4 separate regions of the Homo sapiens genome follow, and all the other regions are linked to region 4. The links come from fine-mapping of genetic effects on gene expression. A gene starts in region 4. Each other region holds a variant in brackets. All regions are shown on one strand. Distances are between the middles of the regions. Region 1 overlaps GLYR1 (glyoxylate reductase 1 homolog). Region 2 overlaps GLYR1 (glyoxylate reductase 1 homolog). Region 3 holds the start of LOC124903637 (a long non-coding RNA gene). Region 4 holds the start of ROGDI (rogdi atypical leucine zipper).

What was found. PIP is the estimated chance that this variant, and not a neighbour inherited with it, causes the effect.
Region 1: its variant is the best candidate, but not a certain one, in a credible set for the expression of ROGDI in nucleus accumbens (GTEx, PIP 0.62).
Region 2: its variant is the best candidate, but not a certain one, in a credible set for the expression of ROGDI in transverse colon (GTEx, PIP 0.87).
Region 3: its variant is the best candidate, but not a certain one, in a credible set for the expression of ROGDI in whole blood (INTERVAL, PIP 0.60).

The regions. Positions count from the first base shown.
Region 1 is chr16:4,821,036-4,826,070 of GRCh38, reverse strand. It overlaps GLYR1 (glyoxylate reductase 1 homolog), which reads left to right. Exons shown (of 16, transcript NM_032569.4): 6 at 2,164-2,250; 7 at 3,140-3,196; 8 at 4,474-4,524; 9 at 4,618-4,691. Among named protein-coding and RNA genes, the nearest start is that of ROGDI, 21 kb to the right of the region's middle. The variant C/G (reference allele first, on the strand shown) is at 3,102.
Region 2 is chr16:4,828,474-4,833,508 of GRCh38, reverse strand. It overlaps GLYR1 (glyoxylate reductase 1 homolog), which reads left to right. Exons shown (of 16, transcript NM_032569.4): 4 at 597-735; 5 at 1,288-1,530. Among named protein-coding and RNA genes, the nearest start is that of GLYR1, 16 kb to the left of the region's middle. The variant G/T (reference allele first, on the strand shown) is at 2,683.
Region 3 is chr16:4,891,306-4,896,340 of GRCh38, reverse strand. PPL (periplakin) reads left to right here. Exons shown (of 22, transcript NM_002705.5): 10 at 625-747; 11 at 934-1,080; 12 at 1,723-1,874; 13 at 2,703-2,800; 14 at 2,971-3,128; 15 at 4,128-4,306; 16 at 4,392-4,530. LOC124903637 (a long non-coding RNA gene) reads right to left here and starts at 625. Exons shown (of 3, transcript XR_007064965.1): 1 at 1-625. RefSeq lists an enhancer at 238-1,083. The variant G/A (reference allele first, on the strand shown) is at 2,263.
Region 4 is chr16:4,800,746-4,805,780 of GRCh38, reverse strand. It overlaps ROGDI (rogdi atypical leucine zipper), which reads left to right and starts at 3,148. Exons shown (of 11, transcript NM_024589.3): 1 at 3,148-3,254; 2 at 3,328-3,399; 3 at 4,196-4,278; 4 at 4,460-4,514. The coding sequence starts at 3,210. It overlaps GLYR1 (glyoxylate reductase 1 homolog), which reads left to right. Exons shown (of 16, transcript NM_032569.4): 16 at 471-2,578. The coding sequence ends at 545. RefSeq lists enhancers at 799-1,093, 3,140-3,640 and silencers at 2,641-2,852, 2,745-3,534, 3,575-3,634.

The sequences.
Region 1 (5,035 bases), 20 kb before region 4:
CTCCAAATAAATAAATAAGTTGTGTCTACCACACCAGTGACTGACTCGGTGACCTTAAGCAAGGTTACTTAAGCTCTGTGTGCCTTAGTTTTCTATTCTGTAAAAGAAGATTATAATAGGGCTGGGTGCAGTGGCTCACGCCTGTAATCCCAGCACTTTGGGAGGCCGAGGCGGGCGGATCACGAGGTCAGGAGATCGAGACCATCCTGGCTAACATGGTGAAACCCCGTCTCTACTAAAAATACAAAAAATTAGCTGGGCATGGTGGCCGCGCGCCTGTGGTCCCAGCTACTCAGGAGGCTGAGGCAGGAGAATCGCTGGAACCCAGGAGACAGAGGTTGCAGTGAGCCAAGATTGTGCCACTGCACTGCAGCCTGGGCTACAGAGCAAGACTCCGTCTCAAAAAAAAAAAAAGAAGATGATAATAATTCTGTTTCATGAAGGGGCAAGAATTACATGAGAATGTATGTATAAAATAGGACTTATTGTGATGTCTAGCACATAGTAAGCCCTATGAAGGCATTTGTTCTCATTATAATCCACATCAGCATCATGTTCTATGGGCAAACATAAAAAGAGGTCAGGTGAAGCCACTCTGATAAGGTGACATTTCAGCAGAGTCCCAAAGCGAGCCTGAGCCAAGGAGATAACTGTCAGAAGAACGTTCCAAGTAGCACAAGGGTGCCAGGGCAGGCACATGCTTGGTGTGTTTGGTGCGGGGGGGAAAGCCAGCAGGGTGCTAACGAGCTAGAGAGCAGTGACGGGGGAAGAAATAGGACTTGAGGTTGGAGATTGGCGTGGGATGGGTGGGAGACGGCAGAACTTGCAAGACCCTCCCTGTAGACCATGCTCATGAAGCCCGTAGCTTTACTATGTGAGACTGGAAGGCAGTTTAAGGCAAAGAAGCATCATAATCTGATTGGCCCTTTTGGTAGCTGACTCTGGCTGCTGTGTAGAGACTAGACTGTGAGTGGAAGCAGGGAGATTTATTTTTGCAATTGTCCAGGTGGCCTGAGCTTAGGTATTAGTAGCAGGGATGGTGAGAAGAAGGGGTTGGGCAGATCGCCAACTGTAAAGCCCCATTCATTGTCAGTGGATTAGAGAAGAGAGGGGTCAAGAAGGGCTCTAAAGATATCGGCCTAGTAGAATGGAGCAGGCGTTTTCTAAGACTGAGAAAACCTCAGGAGTAGTTTAGGCAGGGGGTGTCAAGAGGGCCACTGTGGCTGGAAGGGAGTGACTGGGGAAAGGGAGTGCAAGGTAACATCAGAGCAGTCGAGAGGGACCAGACCAGTGTTAAAACTGGAAAGAGGACCCTTTGCCCAGGAAGAAGGTGAGCCGGGCCATCGATGAAGAGGAGCTTCTCATCTCACCATGTCCTCCTGTGTCCGTCTCAGGAGAACTCAGGCTCTTGGGCTCTGGCCACCCTGGAGTTTAATTCTGCCTTTGTCATGATAGCTGTAAAATGTGGGCAGATCTCATCAGCCCCATGTGGTTTTATTCGTTTCTTTGAAATATGGCGGATTCCTTCTGAAGCCACTACTGTTTCTTTTTTTTCTTTTTTTTTTTTTTTTTGAGATGGAGTCTTGCTCTGTCTCCAGGCTGGAGTGCGGTGGTGCAATCTCGGCTCACTGCAACTTCCACCTCCCCGGTTCAAGCGATTCTTCTGCCTCAACCTCTGGAGTAGCTGGGAGTACAGGTGCAGCTAATTTTTGTATTTTTTAGTAGAGACGGGGTTTCACCGTGTTGGCCAGGCTGGTCTCGATCTCTTGACCTCATGATCTGCCTGCCTCGGCCTCCCAAAGTGCTGGGATTACAGACATGAGCCACCACGCCCAGCCACCACAACTGTTTCTTAATGTTTGGTATTCACCATAAGGCATTTACTCTGAAACTTTGCAGACAGTACTGCAGATCGTACTTGGGCTTTCTAATTACCTCCATCTTTGTGAAATTTAGACATAAGTACACATTTTATTATTTCCAGAATTGAGAAGAAAGACTCACTTTGTGTTAATGGGAAGAACTGGCTTGTTTCTCCCGAGGGACGGTCATCAGAACAGTGGTTGGGGATTGGCTTGAACTTTCCCTTAGACTGTGGAGCTTGCAAGGGGTTTTGTTGGGGTTTGAATGTGATTTTAAAATGCCCTGCCCCTCCCTCTATAGGATCTCACCATCCCGGAGTCTAGTACCGTGAAGGGGATGATGGCCGGACCGATGGCCGCGTTTAAATGGCAGCCAACCGCAAGCGAGGTAAGGAGCTCTCCTGCAGGCAGGACAAGCTGTGGCTTAGGGCGAGGTTCCTGTGTGATCCTTTTTTTTTTTTTTTTTGTCCCTTTCTTGTGTGTGAGGCTTAATTTATTATTACAAAACAGTACAGAAGTCTATGAAATAAAAAATTAAAAATTTCCCTCTAGGGTGAGCACTGTGAGGCTCGAGGTGACGGATTTCAGTCCTTTGGGATGCCCACTTAGCATTCATTTACATGATTATAGACCTATGTCTAGTTTTTTTTATTTTGGGCAGGGTTCTTTTTCACAAAAGTGGGATGATTCCACAAGTTTTTTTCCCCTAATATTTTATAAACACCCTCTTATTGTCCATAAATACAACTTTTATGTTTAGTTTTATTATCCTTGGTGCGGCTACACCTGTTGCTGGGCATAATTATGGAAAGCCCATGAAGGTCCACTGTCGTGGCTACTCTGTTTCTGTTAATATGCTCAGTAAGATGAGATCGCCAAGGGCTTGGTACCAGACACAAGTAGGCCAAAACCCTGAAATTCCAGAATAGATGTGACTTAGTTTGCTGGGTTATCTGCTGTGCCTGATGAGTACCGAATTTATAAAGCACAGGTATGCTTGTTAATATTTTCCCACAGGCTCATTGGAATAATTTGTGTACCAACCTAGCAGAATCATCTATTCTTTTACACTTTAAAGCCAGTTTTCCTCTAGCTGGAATGGGGCTTGTTTTTATAAAAAGGCTTAGGCCAAAATGGGAAAAGAGTTTCCAGACAATTGTGAAAAAGAGACCAGAATCCAGAGGTGTTGCAGCCAGAGGAGAGTCCAGTTACCAGGGAGAAGGAAGTGACCTTTGGTGG[C/G]AGATAACTGGTTTTATTTCACTGTTTTCTGGTTTCAGCCTGTTAAAGATGCAGATCCTCATTTCCATCATTTCCTGCTAAGCCAAACAGAGAAGGTGAGTTGCCTTTGAGGCTCTTGGCCCTTGGTCAGGGGCTGGCCAAGGAGTGCTCCTCCACTGGGTCCTGGCCTGGCCATCTGAAAAGTTAGGCTCTGCCGGTGTATTGCCCAGAGCAACTAGCCCAGAAGCCCCCATATGGGCCCGCTAATGAGCCAAGCATTGTTAAGATTAAAAGTAAATCCAGGCCGGGCGCGGTGGCTCACACCTGTCATCCCAGTACTTTGGGAGGCTGAGGCAGGTGGATCATGAGGTTAGGGATTCAAGACCAGTCTGACCAACATGGTGAAACCTCATCTCTACTAAAAATAGAAAAATTAGCTGGGCATGGTGGCGCGTGCCTGTAATCCCAGCTACTCAGGAGGCTGAGGCAGGAGAATTGCTTGAACCCGGGAGGCAGAGGTTGCAGTGAGCCAAGATTGCGTCGCTGCACTCCAGACTGGGCAACAGCGTAAGACTCTGTCTCAAAAAAGATAAATAAACCCAAAGGCCGGGCATGGTGGCTCATGCCTATAATCCCAGCACTTTGGGAGGCCAAGGCGGGTGGATCACCTGAGGTCAGGAGTTCAAGACCAGCCTGGCCAACATGGTGAAACCCCATCTCTACTGAAAATACAAAAATTAGCTGGGCATGGTGGTGCATTCCTGTAATCCCAGCTACTTGGGAGTCTGAGGCAGTAGAATCGCTTGAACCCAGGAGGTAAAGGTTGCAGCAAGCCGAGATGGTGCCACTGCACTCCAGCCTGGGCGACAGAGCGAGACTCTATCTCAGAAGAGCATTTAAAACTCAGCCAGCTGTGTAGTTGAGACTGTCACAGTGACCTTTAGAGTTTAGGGCAGAAACCAAACATCGTAAGCTGTCAGCACCCCATGAAATTGCATGGCAGACACATCTTCAAGCTCACTCCAAGAGGTAGTCTCCAAGTCCTGCGGATGCAGAGGGAGGTCCTCCCAAGGTCTGCAAGGTTATGGGGTGGCCTGAGCCGTGCTAGGATCTCATGAGAGTTTGTGGCTTTGGAGTTGGATAGATGTGGGTTCCAAGCTTATGACTCTTATTCTCAACACCATGGTCAGCAAAAAGACCTGGTAGAATTGCATGGGGACTTGAATGAGGTAATGTGTATGAACTTTCTAGTGTAAAATTTGGAGTTCACTAAAGTATAAAACAAATAGTTGATGTTAACTTCCCACTTTGGGTCTAACCTTTGAGGGGATTATTATGAAGACTGGTTAAGCCTGCAGTAGCACAAGTAGTCTCTTTCCTCCTCCTTCATTAGCCAGCTGTCTGTTACCAGGCAATCACGAAGAAGTTGAAAATATGTGAAGAGGTATGTAGGCTCCATGCCTCCCCATTTTAATTTTCACCTGGGGCCTTAAACTGCAGGCAGACTGACTTGATGATGTGTGCTTCCTGTCCGTAGGAAACTGGCTCCACCTCCATCCAGGCAGCTGACAGCACAGCCGTGAATGGCAGCATCACACCCACAGACAAAAAGTAGGACCTTTGATGAAAAGGCCTCCAGTGGCTCTGGTTCTGCTGAGGGTGGGGAGAAGGTGACCCCAGGGGGGTTCTTTAAGGGTTGTGTCCCAGCCATTGCTGGCATTGAATGGAAAAGGTGGGGGGATGTTGTAACTCTTATCGATAAAGACAGGAGTCAAAAGCTGTGTAAATCTGTGGTCGGGTCTCCCTTGGGCATAAGCTGAGGGATTTTTTTGGCTCCAGAACTCAAGAGCAAGGAGCACTTGGCTCAGTGGTTCTCAGACTTTCCTGTGCCTGACAGTCACCTGGAAGGTGGCTTCTCAGTCAATATGTCCGGGTGGGGCCCAAGAATTTGTATT
Region 2 (5,035 bases), 28 kb before region 4:
GCTCAGTGGCTGTGAATATCCATAGGAACCACAAATTTTAGAAGATGTTGCATTTCTTCAGCTCTGTAACATCCCTGACTCTCTGTGGATCAACAGATCATAAATCTGGTTCCCATTGTTGACAGGCAGCAGGCATTTTCCTGCATAGTAATGCTGCTATCATCTATCACATTTCCAGGTACCCTGATTCCCAGGGATCTGTGTGTGGCCATTTGTGCTGCCTGGTGAGAATGGGAAAGGGTCTCCAGATTTCTTTCTGCCCTGAGCAAGTGGCAGCGTATATGTGGTTGGGCATTGGAGGCTGATAGACGATTGTGGAAATAAATAATCTGCAACACAGTGCTTTCACTGGAGGAACTTGATTTGTGGTTGCTGCAGTGGTGGTGATGGTTGTTCTGCTTGACTTGTTTCAAGAAAATATACTTTAGACATAAGACTCTGAGATGGTTGATAGCATGTTTTGAAAGAAATGGCAAGGCCTATTGCAAAGTCCAGTTAAACCAAATGGATATTTACACCGTGCCATAGTGAGGTTGTTGATACTTTAGGGCATATGCTATATGGTTCACACCCTTTTTGTGTTTGTTTTCTGCTAGTGCCTGGATCAAAGTGGAACAGCTGAAGCCATATCATGCTCATAAAGAGGAAATGATAAAAATTAACAAGGGTAAACGATTCCAGCAAGCGGTAGATGCTGTCGAAGAGTTCCTCAGGAGAGCCAAAGGGAAAGACCAGGTGAGAGACACAATGTTCACTTTCTACCAATGCCAGACTGGTGATTTTTGCATAGCAACTAACAGATTAAATGTCACCCAAACGCAAACCTTTGTTCTTCTGAAATGCTACTGGAGAAAGCTACTTCAGTTCTAAGGTGTCAGCGTTTTGCTTATCAGTTTGAAACTCCATGCAGCTAACCTTTCTGGAGTAGGTTGTTGCTTTTAGGAAAATTGCTTGGACCCAGGAGAAATATCTCAGCATTTGAGTCTAGCACAGGCCATTTCTTCCTTTCATAGCACACAGATTAGGAGCATAGCCTCTGAAATACATATACTGCCTAGATTTAAATCCTTTCTTCTAGTTTTGGGACATAGGGAAAGTGACTTTTGATATATATATTTTTTAAATCTGCTTCTCCCAATGTCTGGGACGACAGCAGAATCTATTTCTAGGGTCATTGTGAGGAGACCACACAGAGTGCCTGTAGCAGCACATGGCACCTGTAAATGATGGTGGCGATGGCGGCAGCAGCTGTGGTGGTAGTTATCATTATTATTATTAAACTTTCAGACGTCATCCCACAATTCTTCTGATGACAAGAATCGACGTAATTCCAGTGAGGAGAGAAGTAGGCCAAACTCAGGTGATGAGAAGCGCAAACTTAGCCTGTCTGAAGGGAAGGTGAAGAAGAACATGGGAGAAGGAAAGAAGAGGGTGTCTTCAGGCTCTTCAGAGAGAGGCTCCAAATCCCCTCTGAAAAGAGCCCAAGAGCAAAGTCCCCGGAAGCGGGGTCGGCCCCCAAAGGATGAGAAGGTTTGTTTTCTCTCTGCAGCTTCCGGGATTAGTGATGTCCTTTTAGTACAAGGTAGAGTTAAGCTCTACAGTATGCTTATGTAGTATGCTTATCTATACTCTGCTCATGGAGTGGGAGCAGAATTCTGTGCTCAAGAATCCTGCAGGGCAGGTGCGGTGGCTCATGCTTTATCCCAGCAACTCAGGAGGCTGAGTCAGGAAGATGGCTTGAGCCTTGGAGCTCAAAGTTGCATTGAGCCGATTGCACCACTGCATTCTAGCCTGGGTGATGGAGTGAGACCCCGAATCTTATTTAAAAAATTAAAAAATAAAGAATCCCATAGACCAGGTGAGAGACACGGCCTGGATGCAGGTGTAAAGTAGGAGCGCGAGGCAGGAGAGCAGTCCACTTGAGCCGGTGCACAAGGGCTGGCCCTGGGAGGGGCTTAGCAAGAAAGAAGGGTAGGCATTCCAAAGATGGAGGGCACAGCCCGTGTGAGGCTCGGTGCTGGTGGAGATACTCTCGAACAGGGAGAGGATAGTGAGGAAAGCCGAGAAAAAGGAAGCTTGTCCCTGGATCGTGGAGGGCCTGAAGGTCTACTGAAGCAGCGTGGTACTAAAGCGTCTTGGAGTCAGTGGGGGCCCGGGAAGGTGACTGAGCCAGTGGCAGTGTGTGCCTCCCGTGTGTGCACCAGTAGTCACCGAGTGCAGAGGGGAAAGTCTCAGAGCCAATTAGGAGGTAAGTCTAGGCGTGCATTCATAAGGGGGTAATTGCAAATGTTGCAAGCAAAGAGGTGAGAGGCACTTCAGAGGAAGAGTTCTTAAGATTCCATAATTGGTTATATAGAGGATGAATGAGAAAAAGGAAAAGAGGATTTCCATCTTCATTCCTGGGAAAGTGGTCATCACTTTCTTAAAAGTAGAGGACTGGGGATGTAGAGGTGGCTTGTGGAGAAAGAGTACCAGTTCTGTTTGGAATGTCAAGAACTTGAGGCAAGGCCTAGACAGCCTGGGAGCTTGGTGTGACCTCAGGACTAGAAATGTAGATTTGGGAGGTGAATTTGTAAAAGGGTAGTTGAGTCCGGGCAGTGGAATGGGTTTGTTTCAGGAAGAGAGGGAGAAGAGGGAAGCGCGGAGGCCTGCATTGCCACAAGAATGCCGTGCTTGGGGCAG[G/T]AAGGAGCAGGAGGAGCTAGCAAGATGAGATAAAGCAGTGAGAGTGCCTCTCTCGCCTTCTTGCTGACAAGATTTGGGGCCGGTCTTACAAGGCCACAGAGAAGAATTTCAAAGTGAAGGGGACTGTGTCAGGAACGCGGTAGGATTGTCAACAGCAGGATAAAGAGAACAGAAGCCAGATGGCTGGCAGCAACAGTTGGGTGACGAGGCCATGATGGAACATTAGACCTTGGATCAAGGCTCAAAAATTCAGACACCAGCGAGCCCAGGCAGGTAATGGAAGCAACTGTAGCTGACTGGACCTAAGAAGCAGTGGCACGGGTGCCAGGCACCCCAGCTGACCTGCCTTGGTGCTCAGAGCAGCAGGGCTGGCCATGGTCAGGGAGTCTGGGGAGGTCATGCTCTGTCCACAGGGTTCTAGCCAGCTTCTGCCAAATTGTCTGTTTTTTCTCAAGAGAAGCTGGGAAGGCCAGTTGTGGTGTCTCATACCTGCAATCATAGCACTTTGGGAGGCTGAGGCAGGAAGATCACATGAGCCCAGGAGTTCAAGACCAGGCTGAGAAGCATAGTAAGAGCCTTTCCCTTAAAAAAAAAAAAAAAAAAAAGACAAAGTTGGCCAGGTGCAGTGGCTTATGCCTGTAATCCCAGCATTTTCGGAGGCTGAGGTGAGCAGATTGCTTGAGCTTAGGAGTTGAAGACTAGCTCTACAAAAACTAAAAAATTGGCCAGGCATGGTAGCTCACACCTGTAATCCTAGCACTTTGGGAGGCCAGTGCAGGAGGATCCCCTGAGCCCAGGAGTTCTAGACCAGCCTGGGCAACATAGGGAAACCCCATCTCTATTAAAATTTTTTTTGCTGGGTGCAGTGGCTCACACCTGTAATCCCAGCACTTTGGGAGGCCGAGGCAGGTGGTTCACCTCAGGTCGGGAGTTCGAGACCAGCCTGACCAACATGGAGAAACCCCGTCTCTACTAAAAATACAAAAATTACCCGAGTGTGGTGGCACGCTCCTGTAATTCCAACTACTCGGGAGGATGAGGCAGGAGAATCACGTGAACCCAGGAGGCAGAGGTTGCAGTGAGCCGAGATTGCGCCACTGCACTCCAGCCTGGGCGACAGAGTGAGACTCCGTCTCAAAGAAAAAAAAAAATTTAATATAAATGAATTAAAAATTAGCTGGGGTTGGTGGTGTGTGCCTGTAGTCCCCCCTACTCAGAAAGCTGAGATGAGAAGATCACTTGAACCCAGGAGGTGGAGGTTACAGTGAGCCAAGATTATGCCACTGCACTTTAGTCTGGGTGACACAGCGAGACCCTGTCTCAAAAAAAACAACAAAAAAAGAAACAAAAAGTACTAGTTGGGCATAGTGGTACACACCTGTAGTCCCACCTACTTGGGAAGCTGGGGTGGGAGGATCACTTGAGCCCAGGAGGTCAAGGCTGTAGTGACCTACAATTCCACCACTGCACTCCAGCCTGGGCAACAGTGTGAGACCCTATCTCCAAAAAAAGAGAGAAGCTGGAAATACAGGTTTTTATGTGAAATATCCCAATTTTAAATGTGCTTAGTTCAAAAATATGTCTTGGGGCCATAGAAACATCTCTGTGGGCTGCCAGTGTGAGGCCTCTGGTGAGAGACAGCCCTTCTCACTGTTAGATGACCTCAGGCTGAGGGAGTGGTGAGAGCAAGGGTGGCAGTGCTGTCCCTGCATACCGTCAGCCCAAGGTTTGGAAAAGCTGCCAGCTGCAGTGCAGAGAGAACTTTATAGGGAACATGATCTAAATTGACCCACAAAAAATGTAATGTGACTTCTGAGTTTATTTCCTGGAATCCAAAAGGAATCTGGGCTGTCAGATTTTATGCTATTTCCCAAATTGATATTGTCTGGTATGTGAAGCCATGCATCTCACCGGTGCCTGTGCCACCCTGGAAAGAAATACCTTCTCGTTGGATAAAGGGAAGTACAAAGGAGAGGTTATGACGAGGGCCTGGAGTTTGAATCACGTATATAGGACCTTAGCAAAGCACCTTTGCCCCAGTTTCCTTGTCTCATCGTTAGGAATTACAACAGTACGTGCCTCCTAGGTTCACTGTGTTAGTTAAATGAGTGACATGGACACAGCACTTAGAACAGTGCCTGTGTACAAGGCATTTGATCAGTTCTTTAGGTTTGTTTCGCAGACACTGGCCGTTTGTACAGTGAGAACCCCAGAGGCCACTGCCCAGGCTTACAGGAACTCGTCTCACGAGCTCCCAATAAACTGCAGACAGCCCTTGGGTCTGAATTATTAATCTGGGGAGTAGTGTAGCATACGTTGGAGATACTGCAGGTTCGATTCCAGATCATTGCAG
Region 3 (5,035 bases), 91 kb before region 4:
TGGACACTTGTCTGTTTCCAGAGGAATGAGAGTTCTTAAGAAGCTGCGGGTAATTCTTAGGATTGAGGTGTCTGGGGAAAGCTGGATGTGGGCGACGCCGTGTCACTCCTCATTCCCTGTCTGAGCCGCACAGTGGGGGCTTCAGGTCCTGTTTATGGCTGCAGCCCAGGTGCTCAGCCCAGGGGATAGCTGACAGTGAACCAAGAGTTGATAGACTGAAGAATGGGCAAGAGAATTTTCGAGAACAAAAAGGGGAGGCTATTATCAAAACCTAGAAAGAAGCTATAGTATTAAGTCTGGATGTTCCTAGTACAGAGAGAGGAACTGAATCAAAGACACCTCAAGACTTACTGATACATCCAAGAAAACATGTCACAGAGGTGGCATCTCATGGATGGGTGGGAAGGGACCTGGCTTTTCCCAGTGAGGCCCCTAAGGAGCCAGCTCAGGGAGGGTGGGGCTGTCTCCACGCAGAGGAGCCTCAGGCTCAGCACAGGGTCCCATGCTGGACTCCAGGTGAACCGGAGGCCCAGCCCCGCCTGAGGGATGAGCTTGAAGCCTCCGACAGAAGCCCAGGTGCTTCTAGTGGTTTCCTGGCTGTAACAGAGCCACCTTCTCCCCTAGTTTCACGAAGACGTGAAGGACGCTCAGGAGCTGCTGCGCAAGGTGGACTCGGACCTGAACCAGAAGTATGGCCCTGACTTCAAGGACCGGTACCAGATTGAGCTGCTGCTGCGGGAGCTGGATGTGAGCGATGGCCCAGGACCCCTGCTGGCCCGGGGGGCGGGGGACCCCTCTACACCATGCCTGCCCTCAGCCCTGTACAGGCCCCTCCACAGCACCCCACCTGCTGAATCCAGCCCCTGCTCTGCGTCCTCCCACCAGGGGGAAGGCTGTTGGTCTCACCTGGGCCCCTGACCCCGTTCTCTCCAGGACCAGGAGAAGGTGCTGGACAAGTATGAGGACGTGGTGCAGGGGCTGCAGAAGCGAGGCCAGCAGGTGGTGCCCCTCAAGTACCGCCGGGAGACTCCGCTCAAGCCCATCCCCGTGGAGGCACTCTGTGACTTTGAGGGGGAGCAGGTGCGTGGGGCCAGCTCCTCTGTTCACATCACTACAAAGTTTTTGGGGTAACATGGTTGGATCCCGGGCCTCAGGCGCCGTTCTCAGGAGCCTGTGCCTGTCTCCGTGGTTGGTGTCACTCTGCCAACCCTTCCCCTGGTGCAGGCCAACTGGCACCCCTATGCCGCCCCCACCTCGGCTGCCCTGGCCTTGTGTTCCACCAGCTTAGCAACCCCAGTCCCTCCTCAGAAGTCCCAGGCCAGGTTCTCATTGGCTCACTGTGAGTCACGTGTCCATCCTACACCAATCACTGTGGCCAGGGAATGCCAGGGTCCACCCTATACCAATGACTGTGGCTGGCGAATGCCAGTCATTGGCCAGGTCCAAGTCACATGTCCATCTGGAGCTTGGGAATGGAGAAGGAGAGACCACAGGGACTGGGAATTGGGAGGGAAGGTTCCCCAAAGGGAAATGGAGGTGGGTTGCTGGGCCGGCAGCCTCAACACATGTGCTTCTCCTGCATGCCCCTCCCCACTCTACGGGGAGGGTCCAAGTGATGAGCCGGGGCTCCCCAGGTCCAAGAGTCGGGGGCTGAGATGGCAACCGGGCTCCCAGGCCCTCAGGCCCTGCCGGGATCCTGACTGTCCAGCCTGCCCCCGCCAGGGCCTGATCTCGCGGGGCTACAGCTACACCCTGCAGAAGAACAACGGGGAGAGCTGGGAGCTCATGGACAGCGCTGGGAACAAGCTGATTGCTCCGGCCGTGTGTTTTGTGATCCCCCCCACAGACCCTGAGGCCCTGGCTCTGGCTGACAGGTACAAGGGCAAAGGCGGGAGTCTGCATGGACCAGTCCCACCCCCAGGGCTTCTCAGGCCCCATTCATAGCCCCGGGGATTTGGACTCAGCCTGTGGGGAGCGCGGGGTCGCTGACACTCTCCATCTGCACCCCCTTGGAAGTTCATGCAGGAGAGGGGCAGATTGTGGGCCAGCTGACTTGCTAAACATGAATGTCTAGCTCTGGGCTTCGTCCTGGCCCCCTCACGAGTTTCTAAGCAGTTTCTAAGGGCCCCTGACTCCCGCACGCACTGCTCCCTGTACTTGCAGACCCCAGCCCCTTGGCTGGAGGACTCAGCTGGGATAAGGGCTGCCTCCTCTTTGCTCCCAGGCACCTTCTTCCACTGCACGCACCGCTTTTTATTAAGT[G/A]ACTAGCGTATGCGTCAGTCTCATTGGGCCTGGGCTCCTTGAATTTCCTCTCTCCAGGGCCTAGTTAAGTACCTGGTACAAAGTAGGTGCCCAGGAACTCCTTGCTGAATGAGTGGATCATTCAAGGAATGCCTTCATTTATTAAGTATTTATTGAGCACCTACTGTGTATGCTCCCTCAGAAGTAACATCTTGGTGGTGATTATTGGACAGACAATTTTAGGTAGTGAGACTTCCTACGAAAGAGGAGGGAAGGAGGGAGAAGAGCTCTGAGCCCAGGAGCACAGAAAGGCCAGTGCCACAGTGAGCACTTGCTGTCCGCATCTAAGGAGCTGTCAGGCTCCTCTGGGGTGTCTGCCCAGCCAGAGTCCGCAGTCCCGCCTCTGTGGGTGCAGGGGGTGGTGGGCTGCCCAGGTTCCCAGCTCATTTCTGTCCTCACAGCCTGGGCAGCCAGTACCGGAGCGTGCGGCAGAAGGCAGCTGGGAGCAAACGCACGCTGCAGCAGCGGTATGAGGTGCTGAAGACCGAGAATCCCGGAGGTGGGTGCCAGGGCCACTCGCCTGAGGCTCTGGGGGTACCGGGGAGGAGGGGCTGGACCAGGGTCTGTGCTGTGGATGAGACGGCGGGGGGCTGGCTGCCTAGGTCCATCCCTGGGCCTCACACCCCTGGCCCGTTGTCACACCTGCCTGTGTCCTCCCTCCCTCCACAGATGCCTCTGACCTACAGGGGCGGCAGCTGCTGGCTGGCTTGGACAAGGTGGCCAGCGACCTGGACCGGCAGGAGAAGGCCATCACAGGGATCCTGCGGCCACCACTGGAGCAAGGCCGGGCTGTGCAGGACAGTGCCGAGCGGGCCAAGGACCTCAAGGTACCTGCGGGTCAGGAGCACAGGTGGGGCCGGGGGAGCCCTGCACTGGCCCCCTGGGGCCCCTATTTGAGGTCTTTTCCCCATGGAGTCTTGGGATATTCACTGCAGCTGTCTGTCAGGGACAGCCTGCTGCATGTAAAAGGGTCCCAAGTCATGGAGGTGGCAGGGCTGCTGTCATTACCTCCCCAGGAGAAAGAGCTGGCAGGACTTGCATTGTTCCTGCACGGCTTGTCGATCTGACGCCTGGCATGGCACATGGGCTGTGGAATTCCGCAGGACTGGGTCACCGGCTGGCTTGACTGCAAACACGTTAGCGTTTGTATTTATAAACTCCAGGCCTCAGTGTCTTCAGTAGGATGGGTTGGCCCTGCTCACAGGGCAGTGGCGAGGACAGGGTGAGCTGATGCCAGGGGGGACGTGGAGGGGCCACCTCCCCCCACCTCCTTTCCTATACAAAGTCTCCCACATCCTCAAGGCAGCCCTCTGAGGCAGTGAGTAGCACTCCAATTTTACAGAAGAGGATCTGGGATTGGAGAAGTGCCATAGCCCCTGATGGGGCCTCAGAGTGAGAGCCAAGTCAGGGCGAGAGGATGCCGGTCTCGGGTGTAGCCTGACCCCACAAGTCCCTTCCTAAGCTGCTGGGAGTCGTCACACCCCCACCCGTGACTGGGTGGAGTCGTAGTACTCACCTCCCGGGGTTGCCGCAAAGATTAAACAGAAGCGTCCGCGTGCAGTGCTGAGGACAGCACAGGCCCGGCAGCTGCCTGGGTGCTTCTGGTGTCACTAGTCCATTCCACCTCAGCGGTTCCCTGGGATGCTCGTGAAAAATACAGCCCTCAGGCTGGGGTCCAGATGCCGGGTCAGAGCCCCAGAATGTGCCAGGCCTCTCCAGCTGCTTCCACTGTGCCTGATGTGGGAATCTGTGCTCACCCTGGGCACATCCTCAGGGGAAGGGGCTGCCTGGCTGTGTCCAAAACTGAGGGGCCCTGGTTCCCACAGAACATCACCAACGAGCTACTGCGGATTGAACCTGAGAAGACGCGGAGCACGGCTGAGGGCGAAGCCTTCATCCAGGCCCTCCCAGGCAGTGGCACCACACCCCTGCTGAGGACCCGGGTGGAGGACACCAACCGGAAATACGAGCACCTCCTGCAGCTGCTGGACTTGGCCCAGGAGAAGTGGGTGGCAGACAGGCAGCATGGAGGTTGGGGTGGGGTCAGGGGGCCAGGTGGGCATCCCCCGACGCCTGATTGGTGCTCTCAGGGTTGATGTGGCCAACCGCCTGGAGAAGAGCCTGCAGCAGAGCTGGGAGTTGCTGGCCACACACGAGAACCATCTGAATCAGGATGACACAGTGCCTGAGAGCAGCCGTGTCCTGGACAGCAAGGGGCAGGAGCTGGCGGTGAGTCTAGGGCCCAAGTCCTGGGAGTCCTTCTCTGAGCAGGTGAGAGCATCTGGCACATCCACCCGCCCGTCTGGATAGATGAGGACACCAGCATCCAGTCTCCCCAGGTTTGGAATGCCCAAATTGGGAACTGCAAATGGAGGCCCACAGCACAAATCCAAGCTATTCACGGGATCTGTGTGACTTACGGGATTTCGGGTGCCAGCATTTTAAGATCAAATATCTGCAATAGCCAGTGTAGTGGCACATGCCTGTAACACCAGCCATTCAGGAGGCTGGGGCAGGATTGCTTGAGCCTTGGAGTTTAAGTCCAGCCGCCTGGACAACGTTGCAAGACCCTATCTCTTAAAAAAAAAAAAAAAAAAAAAAAAGCATAAAGCACATAACAATCCATGTTCCCAGTATCTCTTGCTGAGCAGAGCTGGCATCCTGGGCTGCAGCTCAGAGGGCAAGTCAGTGGGCAGAGGAGCAGCTGCCTTCTCGGCCTGCTTACCTCGCAGTT
Region 4 (5,035 bases):
TGGTCTTGATCTCCTGACCTCGTGATTCACCCACCTTGGCCTCCTAAAGTGCTGGGATTACAGGCATGAGCCACTGCGCCTGGCCCTAATTTTTGTATTTTTAGTAGAGATGAGGTTTCACCTTTTTGGCCTGGCTGGTCTCGAACTCCTGACTTCAGGTGATCCACCCACCTCGGCCTTACAGGCATGAGCCGCAGTGCCCGGCCAATGCTGAATGTTTTATATCCCATAGTGTATTTCATTCTCACAAGATCCCCCGGGTACTGTTCCTTCTCCCAGAGCAAGAAGCACAGTGGCTGAGGTCCAGAGAAACGGAGGTGCTTCATGCAAGGTCAACACAGGATTCCTAACCGGACAGCCTGGGCTCCAGCACTGCCTGCTGGCCACATCCACCACTGCCTCCAGGAATCAGGTCTAGGTCTTGAAGGCAGCTCTGGGGCCAGAGACTGAGCCATCTCTTTTTTTTCCAGGTGTACAAAAGAGCCAAGGCGCTGGACCAGTCTGACAACGATATGTCCGCCGTGTACCGAGCCTACATACACTAAGCTGTCGACACCCCGCCCTCACCCCTCCAATCCCCCCTCTGACCCCCTCTTCCTCACATGGGGTCGGGGGCCTGGGAGTTCATTCTGGACCAGCCCACCTATCTCCATTTCCTTTTATACAGACTTTGAGACTTGCCATCAGCACAGCACACAGCAGCACCCTTCCCCTGAGGCCGGTGGGGAGGGGACAAGTGTCAGCAGGATTGGCGTGTGGGAAAGCTCTTGAGCTGGGCACTGGCCCCCCGGACGAGGTGGCTGTGTGTTCACACACACACACACACACACACACACACACACACACAGGCTCTCGCCCCAGGATAGAAGCTGCCCAGAAACTGCTGCCTGGCTTTTTTTCTTCCGAGCTTGTCTTATCTCAAACCCCTTCCAGTCAAGGAACTAGAATCAGCAACGAGAGTTGGAAGCCTTCCCACAGCTTCCCCCAGAGCGAAGAGGCTGTAGTCATGTCCCCATCCCCCACTGGATTCCCTACAAGGAGAGGCCTTGGGCCCAGATGAGCCAGTACAGACTCCAGACAGAGGGGCCCTTGGGGCCCTCCAACCTCAGGTGATGAGCTGAGAAAGATGTTCACGTCTAAGCGTCCAGTGTGCACCCAGCGCTCCATAGACGCCTTTGTGAACTGAAAAGAGACTGGCAGAGTCCCGAGAAGATGGGGCCCTGGCTTTCCAGGGAGTGCAGCAAGCAGCCGGCCTGCAGGTGAGCATGGAGGCCCGGCCCTCACCGCCTCGAAGCCATGCCCCAGATGCCACTGCCACAGCGGGCGCTCGCTCCTCCCTAGGCTGTTTTAGTATTTGGATTTGCATTCCATCCCTTGGGAGGGAGTCCTCAGGGCCACTAGTGATGAGCCAAGAGGAGTGGGGGTTGGGGGCGCTCCTTTCTGTTTCCGTTAGGCCACAGACTCTTCACCTGGCTCTGAAGAGCCACTCTTACCTCGGTCCCCTCCCAGTGGTCCCACCTTCTCCACCCTGCCCTGCCAAGTCCCCTGCATGCCCACCGCTCTCCATCCTCCCTCCTCTCCCTCTTCCTCCCGTGGAGACAGTATTTCTTTCTGTCTGTCCCTTTGGCCCAGACCCAGCCTGACCAACGATGAGCATTTCTTAGGCTCAGCTCTTGATACGGAAACGAGTGTCTTCACTCCAGCCAGCATCATGGTCTTCGGTGCTTCCCGGGCCCGGGGTCTGTCGGGAGGGAAGAGAACTGGGCCTGACCTACCTGAACTGACTGGCCCTCCGAGGTGGGTCTGGGACATCCTAGAGGCCCTACATTTGTCCTTGGATAGGGGACCGGGGGGGGCTTGGAATGTTGCAAAAAAAAAAGTTACCCAAGGGATGTCAGTTTTTTATCCCTCTGCATGGGTTGGATTTTCCAAAATCATAATTTGCAGAAGGAAGGCCAGCATTTACGATGCAATATGTAATTATATATAGGGTGGCCACACTAGGGCGGGGTCCTTCCCCCCTCACAGCTTTGGCCCCTTTCAGAGATTAGAAACTGGGTTAGAGGATTGCAGAAGACGAGTGGGGGGAGGGCAGGGAAGATGCCTGTCGGGTTTTTAGCACAGTTCATTTCACTGGGATTTTGAAGCATTTCTGTCTGAACACAAAGCCTGTTCTAGTCCTGGCGGAACACACTGGGGGTGGGGGCGGGGGAAGATGCGGTAATGAAACCGGTTAGTCAATTTTGTCTTAATATTGTTGACAATTCTGTAAAGTTCCTTTTTATGAATATTTCTGTTTAAGCTATTTCACCTTTCTTTTGAAATCCTTCCCTTTTAAGGAGAAAATGTGACACTTGTGAAAAAGCTTGTAAGAAAGCCCCTCCCTTTTTTCTTTAAACCTTTAAATGACAAATCTAGGTAATTAAGGTTGTGAATTTTTATTTTTGCTTTGTTTTTAATGAACATTTGTCTTTCAGAATAGGATTGTGTGATAATGTTTAAATGGCAAAAACAAAACATGATTTTGTGCAATTAACAAAGCTACTGCAAGAAAAATAAAACACTTCTTGGTAACACAGCTGTGCCGCAGGAGTCCTGCTTCCCTCGTCCTCGGCGAGATGGGTGGGAGGAGAAGGCAGCGGCGGGGCCGGGGTGGGTTTTCGGGACCTCCGCGTCCGGGGTGAGACGGACTTGGGAGTGGCGGCGAGGTCCGCGGCAGGGTTGGAACCACGACCAATGGAGCCAAGCGGGCCAATAGGGAGGAGGAGCGGGGACAGACTGTCCTGCCGGCCAATGAGTGAGCGCGAGTGGAGCAGAGCGCCCTATCATATCCTGGGGGCGCCCCGGGAGCTCCGCCCCCAAGCGGGCGCCCCAGGCTGGTGCCGGCCGCGTCCCTGGCCAGCCGGAGCAAGCCTGACTCGTGCAGCCGCCGGCCGCGTCCCTGGCCAGGCGGAGCGAGCCTCACTCCCGCAGCCGCCAGTCTGGTTCCAGGGCTCCCGCAGGTTTCGGGGGCCGAGGCGGACCGACAGGCGCCAGCCAATCGCGAGCACGGAGCCGGCCTGGGGGCGGGGTGGTACCCGCTCCGCCAATCGGGTGGGGGCGGAGCCAGACGCCGGGGGCGGACGGGAGGACCGGAGGACCGAGGACAGAAAGATTGGTGGACAGGAGCAGCGGCCGGTGGGGAGGGCGCTCGGCGGCGGCCTGCGGCCATGGCCACCGTGATGGCAGCGACGGCGGCGGAGCGGGCGGTGCTGGTAAGGCGCGCGGGCCAGCGGGCGGGCCGGCGGGGCGGCGGGGCCGGGCGCGACCGCCGGGTCTGTCCCGCAGGAGGAGGAGTTCCGCTGGCTGCTGCACGACGAGGTGCACGCTGTGTTGAAGCAGCTGCAGGACATCCTCAAGGTAACGACCCGCGCCCTGCCCCGCCGGGCGTGGCGGCCCTCCCTCCTCATTTCCCTGGCTCCACCTGGGGCCGCGCGGCTGCGTCCTGAGCGCCTACAGTGTGCGGCTGCCGCGGCTTTCAGGCAGGGCCCCGCCTCCGCGAACTCGAGCCGACCTCATTATATAAGTACCTGTGTGCGGGCAGGGGCGGGTCCCGACGAGGGTGCTAGCAAGGGCCTGAGTCCCGCCCGGCCTCGGGTCGGGGAAGGCCGCCTTGGGAGCAGCGGCATCCAATCTGGGAGCCGAAGAATTCTGCCTCTGCCTGGCAGTGTGACTTCAGCCAAGTCACTGAACCTCCCTGGGCCTCCCTTTTCTCATTGGCAAAAGGGAGATAACAGTACCCGCTTCGCGAGGCTGGGGTGTAGATAAATGAGCCAGGCAGCTCACAGAAGTAACCGGCGTAGTGCTTGCTGTGGCCCAGGACCGCGGGTTACCATAACTACTGCCTTGTTCCCTGACTCTGCCCCTTGCCCCTTTCCCCCTCAACCAAGCTGGGAGGCTGCCCCTGTCTGTTTTGTATTCCCCGAGGCGGGCACACAGGAGGTGTTCAGGGAATGTGGTATAAGCAGAGATCGGGCTCACGGTTAGGTGCCCTGGGGGCTTGGGCAGGGTCTTCCCACCCCAGCTGAACCCAGGTGAGGCCAGGCCACGTTGTTCCTTCCCCCCGCTGACTTGGAGGGAGGGGGGCTTCTGGAAGGAGCACTGGGCCGGGCCTGAGTGGGCGCTACCAGCTCCCCTCCTTCCCTCTGTTCCACAGGAGGCCTCTCTGCGCTTCACTCTGCCGGGCTCCGGCACTGAGGGGCCCGCCAAGCAAGAGAACTTCATCCTAGGCAGCTGTGGGTGAGCCTGGGCTAGGCGGAAACCGGGGAAATGGGTACCTTGGGGGGTAGGAGGCATGGCCATAGCCCTGTCCTGCAGACCAGCTGGTTGTGCGATGGGACAGGAGGGGCAGCCCGCCGGGAGGGAGGGCTGGGTGGTGGGGGGGTGACCACAGGCACCGCTCTGACGCCACATGTTACAGCACAGACCAGGTGAAGGGTGTGCTGACTCTGCAGGGGGATGCCCTCAGCCAGGCGGTGAGTCCCCCGGCCCTGTCCCCTCCCATCCTGCCAATGGGGAAGAGCATGGGAGCTCCCACTTTCTCTCTGTACAAGCCCTGCGACTCTGGGCGGGACCCTTGATCTCTCTGGCCTCAGTTTTCTCCTTTGGAAAATGACAGCAACCCTCACACCTTCTCCCGGGATCGGTGTGCAGATTCAGTAAGAGGTGCAGGAGAGGGGTTCTTTGCACACGGCCTGGCCTGGCGTCCGGACCAGTGAAACATGGGCATTGGTGGATTAGGCTGGCCACACATCACAGTTGAATCAGCCAATGCCTGAACTCCAGTCTGCACCCGACTCTGTGCCAGGCACCAAGGCGTGGGGGGAGGCCCCCCTCCTGGGCTCCATCTGTTGCCCTTTGTAGACACTAGATGCACCCCGTTCGCACAGAGCCTCACAGAGGCTGCCTTTCCTCTTCCCCTTCCCCTTTCTTCACCTCTTTCCATTTCACTTCTTTGTGGCTCTTCTTGGGCCTGGTTTCCTGTTTCCTGACCTCC